Linked DNA regions of Homo sapiens. The protein of the gene in region 2 interacts with the protein of the main gene of each other region in a pairwise test. Each region holds a gene or a part of one and is shown on either strand. Other genes may lie near its edges.

The links.
Region 1: the proteins of AGAP1 (region 2) and GUCY1A1 interact in a two-hybrid assay, tested with the Homo sapiens proteins (one study listed by BioGRID).
Region 3: the proteins of AGAP1 (region 2) and ZNF534 interact in binary tests that used the Homo sapiens proteins (3 or more experiments, as listed by UniProt).

Annotation. Positions count from the first base shown.
Region 1 is NC_000004.12:155,665,001-155,668,746, reverse strand, and holds the start of GUCY1A1 (guanylate cyclase soluble subunit alpha-1), read right to left. Parts: upstream 1,900-3,746; 5' UTR 1,782-1,899; exon of another isoform or gene 1,527-1,781; intron 1,410-1,526; exon of another isoform or gene 1,402-1,409; 5' UTR 1,328-1,401; intron 1,086-1,327; exon of another isoform or gene 894-1,085; coding exon of another isoform or gene 725-893; intron 658-724; exon of another isoform or gene 158-657; intron 1-157.
Region 2 is NC_000002.12:235,492,405-235,496,150, reverse strand, and holds the start of AGAP1 (arf-GAP with GTPase, ANK repeat and PH domain-containing protein 1), read right to left. Parts: upstream 2,109-3,746; 5' UTR 1,465-2,108; coding exon 1,302-1,464; intron 1-1,301. UniProt on the Homo sapiens protein: GTPase-activating protein for ARF1 and, to a lesser extent, ARF5. Directly and specifically regulates the adapter protein 3 (AP-3)-dependent trafficking of proteins in the endosomal-lysosomal system.
Region 3 is NC_000019.10:52,426,913-52,430,658, reverse strand, and holds the start of ZNF534 (zinc finger protein 534), read right to left. Parts: upstream 1,512-3,746; 5' UTR 1,415-1,511; intron 1-1,414. UniProt on the Homo sapiens protein: May be involved in transcriptional regulation.

The DNA.
Region 1 (3,746 bases), on a different chromosome or scaffold from region 2:
ATAACGAGTTTACTTTTTACCACTGTACATAATAGGGTACCTGAAATGATCACTCTTAAAGAAAAAATATGTATAGCAATTTTAGGAAAAGCAACAGACCACTTCTACACTCTGAACCAAGATAAAAAAAAATTATATCAAGTGCTTCTATGCTTACCCATATGTAACAGGAAAGTTTGACGTTTGTACAAAGACAGTTCTAGTAAGTGGTAGAGATGTATGAAATCAAATCAATTCATTAAATAGGCATTTAGTGAAATTACCATAGGAGAACTGATCCTAAAACATCACTATTGATATGTTATAAATGAAGTTCAAATGAAAGAAAAAAAAATCTGTCCTATTTAAAACTCAGCACTGTTTCCATAGGTTCCAAATCAAGATGCCTTCAACCAGTCATCGTTAAGTGAGCCATACAATCTTCTGGCTTACTTCAGAAGATGTAAACTGTTTATCGAGTGCAAAATGAAAGAATAACCATGTGAAAATCAGTGAGCAGAGAAAGACGCACGAAATCCATAGCCTGAAATCACATGACCACATTGCAACGCAGCCCCTCACACCATTGTCACTGTCAGGCAGCTCAGGCGACAGGGTGCAGACAGGCGCGGAGACCGCGGTGGCCCCCTGCTCACGCTTTCTCCAAGAGCCGCAGTCCTAACGAAAACAGAAATGGGACTGCTAAGCAGTAAATCATTTGTCTCTCTCGCACACACGCGCACACCTCGTGGAGCCGCTGGGCAGTTAGCCGGCTGCCTTCTCTGGGCAGCCCAGCGATCGCAGCTTTTGCTGTGGAGGAGGACGCGCCTCTTACCCACGCCGCAGCCGGCCGGGTGAAGTTGCCCTGAAGCCCGCCACCGCCTCCAGCCCTGCTGCCTCCGGGGTCCAGGCATCCCCCAGCTGCGCCCGCTCGCTTGCCTGCCGGCGCGCCGGAGGCCGCAGCGCTGCACGCGGCTGATGGGCTCTGGGGCCCAGGCGCCCTGGCCGTGGGAGACCAGCGGCCCCGGCGCGCCCCGCGCGTTCTCACGGCCCGGCCCCGCGAGCTCAGCAGCCGGCGCGGCGCTGCTCGGCGCCCACCCCCGTCTGTGCTCCTCCCTCGGGCGCCGCGGGTCCCCCGGGCCCTGGGCCGGCCCCTCGGGCGTCCTCTCCTTTCCTCTCGCTCCTCCCCAGCGTGGGAACCCGATGCTGGCTTCCCAGGGCTGGGCAACTGGGAGCGTACCGAAGGTTTCTCAGGAGAGGAAGGAGACCCAGCCCAAGCGGGGGTCCCGGAAGAGGGACCGCCTGTCTGAAGAACCCCGACCCGCGTGGGGATGCAGCGACCACTTACTTGGTGGCTTCGCACACCTCGGGGCTGTGCTTCCGGATCTCTAGCAGCTCCAGGGCGCGCCTCGCAAATCCGCACTGCGAATGGAGAAAGAGAGCAGGCGTCAGGGGTGGCAGGCAGTGAGCGGGAGAGGGGACCCTGCAGTGGCACCTGTCGGTCCCCGCGCGAGTGCACCCTGGGCACTCGCGGCAGCGGCACTTACGCTTGGGTCGCTCATGTCTACCTGTTCAACAGGCTAGGCGGGACGCGGCGTGCCTCGGAAACTGTATCGCCCGCGTGGCTCCCAGACAGTCCTCCTTGCCTTTGTCTCTCTGTGTCTGTGTCTCCCTCTTTGATCACCCCAAAGGAACCCTTGCAGTTCCTTTCCATAAGGCATTCGATTTTTTCAGACCTCTGCCCGCCTCCTCCCCTTCTCCGCACCGAAAGACTGAAAAAGAAAGTAGCAGCCAAAACGCACCATGGTGAGATCACGCCCGGCTGGGGTCTCTAAGCTCCTCCAGGCGCTCCCTCCCCCACAGGTGTCCTCCGCCTGGGTCTGTTCCAGGCTGCTCGCTGCTCTAGCGCAGGAAAAGTGTAGGAAAACTCTGCACTGAAACCTGCTTCTGGAAAACTGACTCTGAGCTGAGTCCCACCCACTAGGCTCAGACTAGGGCAGGGGAACTGAGTCCTGGTCTCTGCAGCCGCCCAATCGCCATAACAGAAATCACTGTGTGGAGACAGAGACCTAGGGGCAGGGGACAAAAAAAAAAAAAGAGAGAGAGAGAGAGAAAGAAAAAAATTGGAGGGGACTCCAGGAAAATTTGGCACACTTAAAAAGAAAAACAAAAACATGTCTTCTCCACTATGCACTGGTGTGGAAAAACTGTAGTTTTCCACAGTTAAAAACTCCAACATTTCTGCTGGGGAAGTTGACATCTGCGCTGATGACTCTCTTGTCCTGGTTTTCAGATTTGAAGCCAATCTACTCATTTGCAGATGCAGTTTTATGGTTACAGAGATTTTACATCTTTTCAGTAAGGTCTGGCTTCTGCCTGGTTCAGTGCATTTAGTTATATTTGTTACCGTTGTGTGTGTTGTGATATTATGCTTTTAGTCACCTTTCTGACTTAAAAAAATCCCATCATGCTGTTCCATTGTGAATTAACAATTAATCATGATCTTTATGTGATCCATTTTCAATTCAGTTCAATTCATGGTTATCTTCCTCTTTTATATCTCCCCCAAGTACACCATCTAATCTGGTCCCATTTGTAAGCTCATCACATTTGCAAACTTTCTCCCAGTCTTGCCTACTGTGCTTGCCTCATAGTGAACATTAATCAGAATCAGGAAAAAAATACATTTAAATAAGTCAGGAACAGTTAAGAAAGTCAGCAATATAAGCACAGGTAGTCACAGAAACTTTTGCCTTCCTGCCATCTCAGAAACTTCTCTTCCTCTACATTTAACCCATGATACTCTCTTAGATCAGTAGGACATTTGTACTAAGAATATTTAGAACTTCAGATGTAGAAGGAAACTTAAAAAATACACAGTAATTCATTAGTAAAAAGAAGAGGGAAGTCATACTATTTTTAAGTAAATGCTATGAACATTCAGAAGAAAATGAGATATTGTCTGACAGGGTTCATAAAGGAACAGTACTAGAGATAGGACTTGAAGGATTGGTTATGTTTGGAAAAAGATAAAATAGAGGACTTTTTTGTTGTTTTTGCTTTTCTCTGACAGAGGGAAACTTGTGAGCAAACATACAGAGGTTGGAAAGGCATGACACTGTTATTCAAGAAACAAGGAGTAATACCATCTGGTAGAAATAAAAAGTACATAAAGAAAAGTGTAGGAAGATACGGTGGAAAGATAGGCCGGGTTCAGATGCCTGATCCGCAGTTGTCACGTGTTGCAGGCTTGTATAAAGACTTTGTTGTTGCTGTTGTCCTCGTCTGTTGATACCATTACCAATATTCCTTTCATTCTGGAAAATGACTTGTTTAACCCATTAATTTCTACTTTTACCATTCTCAAGTTTTATGGCACACCAAACTCCTTGATTAGTATTGCATTTGACCCCAGTACATTCTGCCAGGAGCTACCGAGTTTTACTAAGAGTAGACTCTCAACTGGATAGTGTCTTGTCTTCTTCCTCCTCTATCCTTTCTGACTGTCAGACAATGGGTAAGAAGAGGAAGCAACCAATCTAAACATAAGGGTGGCTAGAACCACCAAAAGGTGACTGCAAAAGACATTCTGTAATCTGGATGTTTGATATGCTCTAAAAAAGTAACAAGAGTTCCTTGTTGTTAGGGAAATACTAATCTTCACAGCCTAATTTCCTAGTAATGAAAATGGTTCATAACGGGATTCACTAAAATGCCTGCTGAGTGGATAAATGAATACCTGAATATTTCATCATCTTCCAGGTCCA
Region 2 (3,746 bases):
ATGCCAAGGGCTCAGCAACACAACATCCACTTTCTCCACCTAACTGGCCAAGTTTCAAACCAAAGCACTTCGGGGTTAGTAGTTCAGACTACATAGTGCCAAGGCAAAGCCTCTCTGTGGGCTGATACCCTCTCCCTCACAGAGGGAGGAGGCTGGGCAACGCCAGCACCAGGCTTTCAGGCACATTCCTGCCGGCTTTGGGCCATTCTCAATGTTCCTCAATAGAGGTCTTACCGGCCAGTCTGTATTATGGACAAGCCACTCTGCAGGCTTTTTACCATCACTGGCCAACAGCGCTGAGAAGGGAGAAAGTGCTGATCAACTGTGGCTAAGATATGACTCCACACTGTCCACGCACATGCCACCTGGTGCCCCAGGTGAGTCTTGGCCGGACCAAAGGGATGAAGCAAGAAAATAAATCAGCAGCCTGGAAACAGAGAAATGAGAGCCACCAGAAATCCAGAGGGCACAGCCCCGGAAGGCAGACTGCTGCTGTAGCTCTCCTGGAAGGCCATGGCCCTGCCTGACATGCAGAGGGAAGCGGGTGGGGATTCTGCCCAAGCATCCTGCCCCTCTTAAAACCACAGCACCCTCCACTTCAGTGGCCTCCAACTGCAGACATATGAAAGCGAGACCCTTCCGCTGGAGGACGCCCTGCCCTCCTGGTAGGGTTCTTCCTCTAATCCAACCCCGGACTTTTGGTTGGTACAAAGCACACTACCGGTTCCAGCGTTTGCACAGGGGCACCTGGACACGATGCTCCCGCGGCTAGGGCTGGCTCTCGGCATCCACTAAGTTCAACTGCACCCCTGAATTAAGCAAACACACTAAGGAGGGCAGCCCTGCACCGCCCAAACACGCCGGCCCGGGCCTCGCCCCCAGCGGCAGCACTTCTCAGAACACGTCTTCAACGTCCAGCAAGACGCCCAGGCCTGGCCTGGTAACCTGTCAGGGGTCGGGTGGCGCCGACCCCGCCGGCTGCCCCCAGGCGTCTGCTGGGCCGGGACGCTCCGGCAGCCCAGGACGCGGAGGCACCGAGCCACTTTCCCGCAGGAGAGACTCTATTGTCCACGATCAAATTAACGCTGACGATCTATCTTCCTGGCGGAGCTCGCGGCGCGGCGGGGCGCAGGCGACGCTCGCCCGGCCTTGCAAGACAAGCAGCGCCGCAGTGCTCCCTCGGCGGAGCAGCCGCGTGCCCCGGCCGGCGTGTGTGGACACCCGCACGCACACAGCGCACACCCCCGCCGCGCCGCGGGCGTCCGTGCCTTCCCGAGGCCCCAAGGCGGCCCGGCCCTCACCTTCGATGGCGATGACGTGCTCCCGGATCTGGTTCTGCAGCACCGGCTCCTCCACGCGCTCCAGCAGCTCGTAGATGGAGTAGATGTTGGGGTGGACCGACTCGAAGCGCTGGATCTCGGCCCGGATGGCAGCCGAGTTGGCCAGCTGCTGCTGGTAGTTCATGGTGCAGGCGCCGCGCCCGGAGCCGCGCGCCCCCCGCCGCCGCCGCCCCGCGCCCCGGGGCCCGCGGGCCGCCGAGCCCGGGGCGCCGCAGCCCCCGGGGAGCCGGGCCCGCCGGCGGCGGGCGGAGGAGGCGCGAGAAGAAAGGCGCGGGCGGAGCAGGCGCGGGGCTGGCCCGCGGGCTCAGTTCATGGCCGGGACGCGCGGCCGGCGAGCGAGCGGGCCCCGGCGTCCCGGGTCAGCGGGCCGCCCGGGGGGAGCGCGCCCCCATGGAGCGCGCCGCGGCGGGTGCGGCCGGCCCCGAAGGAGGCTTGCTCGGGTGACTTCCTGAGCCGCAGCCGCCTTCCAGCCCTAGGCGCTGCTCCGCGGAGCAGCCATTAAAGCCCAGGCAGCCGCCGCGCTCCGAGCGCCGGGGCCGAGGGCCGACCCCTGGGCAGTGTGGCCGCGCTGCTCTGGGCTCCTGGCCGTGGCGTGGGTCCGCGCGCTGCGTACTGCGCCGCCCGGCGCGCCGGGGCCCCCGCGCGAGCCCGCCGTGCGCCGCCCGCCGACCTGGGACCGAGTCGCAGGCGCCTTGCAAGCCGCGGAGCCCGCTCCGAGCGCCGCCCGCCGCCTGCCCGGCCGGCCCCCTCCCTGGCACGCAGGGCTCCGGCCCACGTCGGCCCCGCCCCCGCCTTCGCCCTCGCCCGCGCCCGCGCCCGCGCCCCGCCTGCCCGCGCGCTTGCCGCCCTCCGGCCGCCGGCGCTGCGTCCTCCTCGGCGCTTCCCAGCGCGCCGGATCCCGGGGAATTGCGCCAGGCCCCGCCCCGCGCCTGCCTCTGGGCTTCCTGGGACTTGTAGTCCGCGCCCCCGGCGGGCCGGGCCAGGGGGGTGCGCGGGGTGTTCACACTGGGCCGGGGTGCGGGACCCTCCCGCCGGCCAGGCCCCGCGCCTGCCAGCTCCTGCCCGGGTTCTCGCGGCGGCCCCCGCGCCCCGGCACGGGGGAGGCTGCCCGGGAGTTCGCCCGCCGCGTTGTTGTTTGTTTCCAAGCGGCTGGCTCCAGGAGCCTCTGCGACTCGCCAGTGTCCCACGGCCTCGCTTGGTTGGCGAGCCTCCCCTTCCCGCGTTTGGTAACTTTCTGCCTCCTTTCTCAAAGTAGCACACGTGCTTTCCCTTAATACATGCGATTTCTTTCCAAAGGCGAAGCGCCTCCTGAGCCCATGCGGCGTGGGGGTCCACACTCCACGAGTGGACTGAAGTTTAGACAGGGGTGCGAGATGCGACAAAATACCACAGAGGCTTTCGAGGCATCCTTCTCCCTTACAATTTTTAAAAATCGAGCCGTGGATCTCAAGCTGCTGCCTCCTGAGCGCCGCTGCCTGCTCCACGGGGTTCCTTAGCCCCTGGACCGTCTGTCCCACCGCAATCCCCGATTTAGGTCATCCCCGGGGACCCCCCGCGGAGCTGGGACCGCACTGCAGCAGCGCTTGGAAGGCTCGTCTCGCCGCTTTGAGGCAAATGGGACCCTTCAGATTTGCGGAAGCACTGGCTGCCGGGCGGTCCCACAAGGTCCTGGATTGAGGACACTGGCTGAGTCCCTGCCCCCAGCCATCGGCGTGGTCTTTCTGAAACTCAGCCAGCCGGGCCGGCATCCCCGTTTAAAGCCTGCTGAGCCTTCACCGGCTCACATGCAGTTTGCTATGGCCTAAGCACCCTGGTATCCAGCCGTGTTGGCTTACTGGCTGGGCTCCACAACTTCCCAAAGATGTGCTGACATTTTTACCATTCCGGACCTGCTTGTCTTCTCCTTGACACTTAGGCACAGGTCATCACTCCATGCCTCGGGCTGTCCACGCATAAGTAACTCTAGTAACCAAGAGGCAGGCATGTGGCCTCACCAAACCTGACCTATCAGCAGCAGCTGATCACTTGCGCTCCTGGAAACCCCTTCTCCCAGTGCTCACCAGGGCTTCCTGCTGTGTTTCTGGCTTCACTGTCCCTTTTGTGGTTTTCTTCTACTCCCCTAACCTCTAAATATGGAGGGCCCCAGGGCTTATGGTTAGGCCTCTTTTCTTTGCTATTTGCTGTGATCGCCCCTGTCTTATGGCTTTGAATATCATACACAGGTTAATGAAGCTCATATGTATCTCCAGCTGTGACCTCACCCCTGAATAACAAATTCACATCCACCTGCATCCTCAACATTTCCTGAAGCCTAGCTGGTGTTTAAGTCCAGCATGTCGCCAGCTGAACTCCTGCCATCCCTTCCGGCTACATCTCCTAAAAATCTTCTCCATCCCAGTCATCGGC
Region 3 (3,746 bases), on a different chromosome or scaffold from region 2:
GAATTGCTTGAACCCAGGAGACAGAGGTTGCAGTGAGCCAAGATTTTAACACTGCACTCCAGCCTGGGTGACAGAGTGCGACTCTATCTCAAAAAAAAACAAAAAAAAAGCACAGACCTCACCCTGACCAAAGCTCATGCAGAGCACAGGCCCCTCAGCCCTCTGTGGATCACAGTGCTCAATTCTAGATATAGACTATAGTAGAATCCTTTTATCGATGTGCACTATGTTCCAAGAGCCCCAATGGATGCCTGAAACCTCCATCAGTACTAAACCCTATTAATTCCCCTTAAAGACTCCATGTTACAGCTTCTCACTGGCATATCCAAATTGTCAGCATCAAGGCCGGGCGCAGTGGCTCACGCCTGTAATCCCAGCACTTTGGGAGGCCGAGGCAGGTGGATCACCTGAGGTCAGGAGTTCAAGACCAGCCTGGCCAACATGGTCAAACCCTGTCTGTACTAAAAATATAAAAACTAGCCGGCCGTGGTGGTGGACACCTGTAATCCCAGCTACTCGGGAGACTGAGGCAGGAGAATTGCTTGAACCCAGGAGACAGAGGTTGCAGTCAGCCAACACAGTGCCACTGCACTCCAGCCTTGGCGTCAGAGTGAGACTCTGTCTCAAAAAAACCCAAAAAAAAAATTGTCAGCATCAATCAATACTCATGTGCCTGGAGGGCATTGTTAAGGGAAAAAAAAAAGGGTTACATGAAAAAAAAGCACTGAGATACCATAAAAGTGGATCTCATCCAAAAGACTATTGGCCAAGTACGGTGGCTCATGCCTGTAATCCCAGCACTTTGAAAGGATGAGGCGGGCAGATCACCTGAGGTCAGGAGTTCGAGACCAGCCTGGCCAACATGGTGAAACCCCATCTCTACTAAAAATACAAAATTAGAGAGGCATGGTGGCGTATGCCTGTAATCCCAGCTACTCGGGAGGCCCAGGCGGGAGAATCGCTTGAATCCGGGAGGCGGAGTTTGCAGTGAGCCGAGATCACGCCATTGCACTCCAGCCTGGGCAACAAGAGCAAAACTCAGTCTCAGGAAAAAAAAAAAAAAAAAGACTATTAAGTGACTAACGAGCAGATACAGTCTAAAGTCAGCCCTTGGTATCTCTGGGGTACACATCAATGGATTCAATCAACTAGACTGAATAATTACAAAAAATGAAAAAAAAATAGCAAAGTGCCAGGATTACAGGCGTGAGGCACCGCGCCCGGCCTAGAAGCCTCCAAGCGGTTTTAACACGCAGGTAAGCGACCTCCAGACTCTCTAGAGAATGTCTGAATTTACTTGGAGTGGATAGAGCGGTGCCGGGACTTCAAGGTCTGCATGAGCCCTCAGATCGCGGGTGTAGAAGCACACAGGAACTGGGCAGCCTAAATTTAATCTAGACAAAGGCAAACTCACGAGTGGCGGCTTAGACAGTCTTTCCGCGCAGTCGGGTGCCGGGTCTACAGGAAAAAGCGCGCGAAACGTTCACTCCATGATCTCGACTTCCGGGTCTGCAGGAAATTGCGCGCGCATCGTACAGGCCGGGCCCGGGGCCGAGGGCAGGGCCGGGACAGGGCGGGCTCAAGGCGGGGTCTATGCTTCTGTCAGTCTGACTCAGCGATCCTGTTTTAGGGTTTTGGAGGCGAGATCTGCTCAGCACTTCTGTAAACAGATCTGTAAACAGATCTTGCTGGGGCAGAGCAAAATCGGTTGGTGATTAGATTAGATCCACGAGAATTCCTGTTATTACAATAAATTTTAAGTCCCAACTACTCTGGAAGCAGAGAGAGAAGAGAGCGTGAAAAGAAAGCAAAAAGAAAGACAAGGCCGGGTGCGGTGGCTCACTCCTGTAATCCCAGCACTTTGGGAGGCCAAGCCGGGCGGATCACGAGGTCAGGAGATCGAGACCATCCTGGCCAACATGATGAAACCCCCGTCTCTACTAAAAACACAAAAATTAGCTGGGTGTGGTGGTGGGCGCCTGTAGTCCCAGCTACTCGGGAGGCTGAGGCAGGAGAATCACTTGAACCCGGGAGGCAGGGTTGCAGTGAGCCGAAATCGTACCACTACACTCCAGCCTGGCGATGGAGTGAGACTCCGTCTCAAAAAAAAAAAAAAAAAAGAAAAGAAAGAAAGAAAATAAGACTAGAGAGAAATAGTGCAACAAAGAAAAGAATGTAGGTGTCTGTGCCTGTGTGTGAGAAAAAGGGAGAGACAAGAAAGAACGAAAGAAAGACATTTTTTTTGTTTGTTTGTTTGTTTGAGAGTTTCGCTCGTTGCCCAGGCTGAAGCTCAATGATGAGATCTCGGCTCACTGCAACCTATGCCTCCCAGGTTCAAGTGATTCTCCTGCCTCAGCCTCCCGAGTAGCTGGGATTACAGGTGCGCACCACCACACCCGACTAATTTGTTGTATTTTTAGTAGAGACGGGGTTTCACCATGGCCAGGCTGGTCTTGAACTTCTGACCTCAGGTGATCTGCCCGCCTCGGCCTCCCAGAGTGTTGGGATTACAGGCGTGAGCCACTATGCCCAGCCAGAAAGACAAATTTTAGGAATTAAGACACTTTGGAACTATCTGTGAAGGGGATGGAAGCTAAAGTGTGAAATGCTAAACCCTGCCAGAGTGGAATGCGCAGTATCATGCCAATGCCCCATAGAATAGAAATACTTTTTTTTTTTTTTTTGAGATGGAGTCTTGCTCTGTCGTCCAGGCTGGAGTGCAGTGGCACAATCTCGGCTCACCGCAAGCTTCGCCTCCCGGGTTCACACCATTCTCCTGCCTCAGCCTCCCGAGTAGCTGGTACTACAGGCACCCGCCACCATGCCTGGCTAATTTTTTTTGTATTTTTAGTAGAGACTGGGTTTCACCGTAGTCTCGATCTCCCGACCTCATGATCCGCCCGCCTCAGCCTCCCTAAGTGCTGGGATTACAGGCGTGAGCCACCGCGCCCGGCTAGAAATACTTTTCATTTACATTCCCCATTCACTCCAGAGGGTGAGGTCAACCCTGTGCTCAATTCCAGAAACTTTCCTAGGGACACCACCTTGGGCATAGAGGACTAAGGTCAGTGTGAAGTCAGGTCACCAACTCTTTTTAAAAAAGCCAATAACTTTAAAAATAGGTATAAATTATTTAGTTTAAGACTTTTTTTTTTTTTTTAAAGACAGGGAATCAACCTGTGACATCCAGGCTGGAGTGCAGTGGCACAATCATAGCTCACTACAACCTTGACTTCCTGGGGTCATGGGCACCTCCTACCTCAGTCTCCCGAGTAGCTGGAAGTACAGGCCTGTGACATTGGACTGTGCTAATTTTTTAGTTTTATATATTATTATTACTTTGTAGAGATGGAGTCTCACTTTGTTGCCCAGCCGGGTGTCCAAGTTCTGGCCTCAAGTTTTCCTTCTGTCTACACTCCCAAAGTACTCAAATTACAGGCATGAGTCACTGTGCACAGGAGGTAAGGACCCCACATCAGGACCTCAGGTAGTTTTGAAACACAAATACGTAAGATCCACAAGCAGGACTATTGGCTAGAGACAGTGGGGTCACCTGAAGAAATTTTCTTTGACCTGAATAGCAACTTCTCACCCAGGTCACTGGGATCCCGGACTATGGCACTGTTCCAGGCAGGCCTGGTTATCCTGCTTGAGGCAGCAATCCTCTTGAGCCTAGTGAAATGCAACTGGCTGTACCTCAGTGATGTCGCGCTGAGATTCTGCCAGTCAAGATATTACTTCAATCT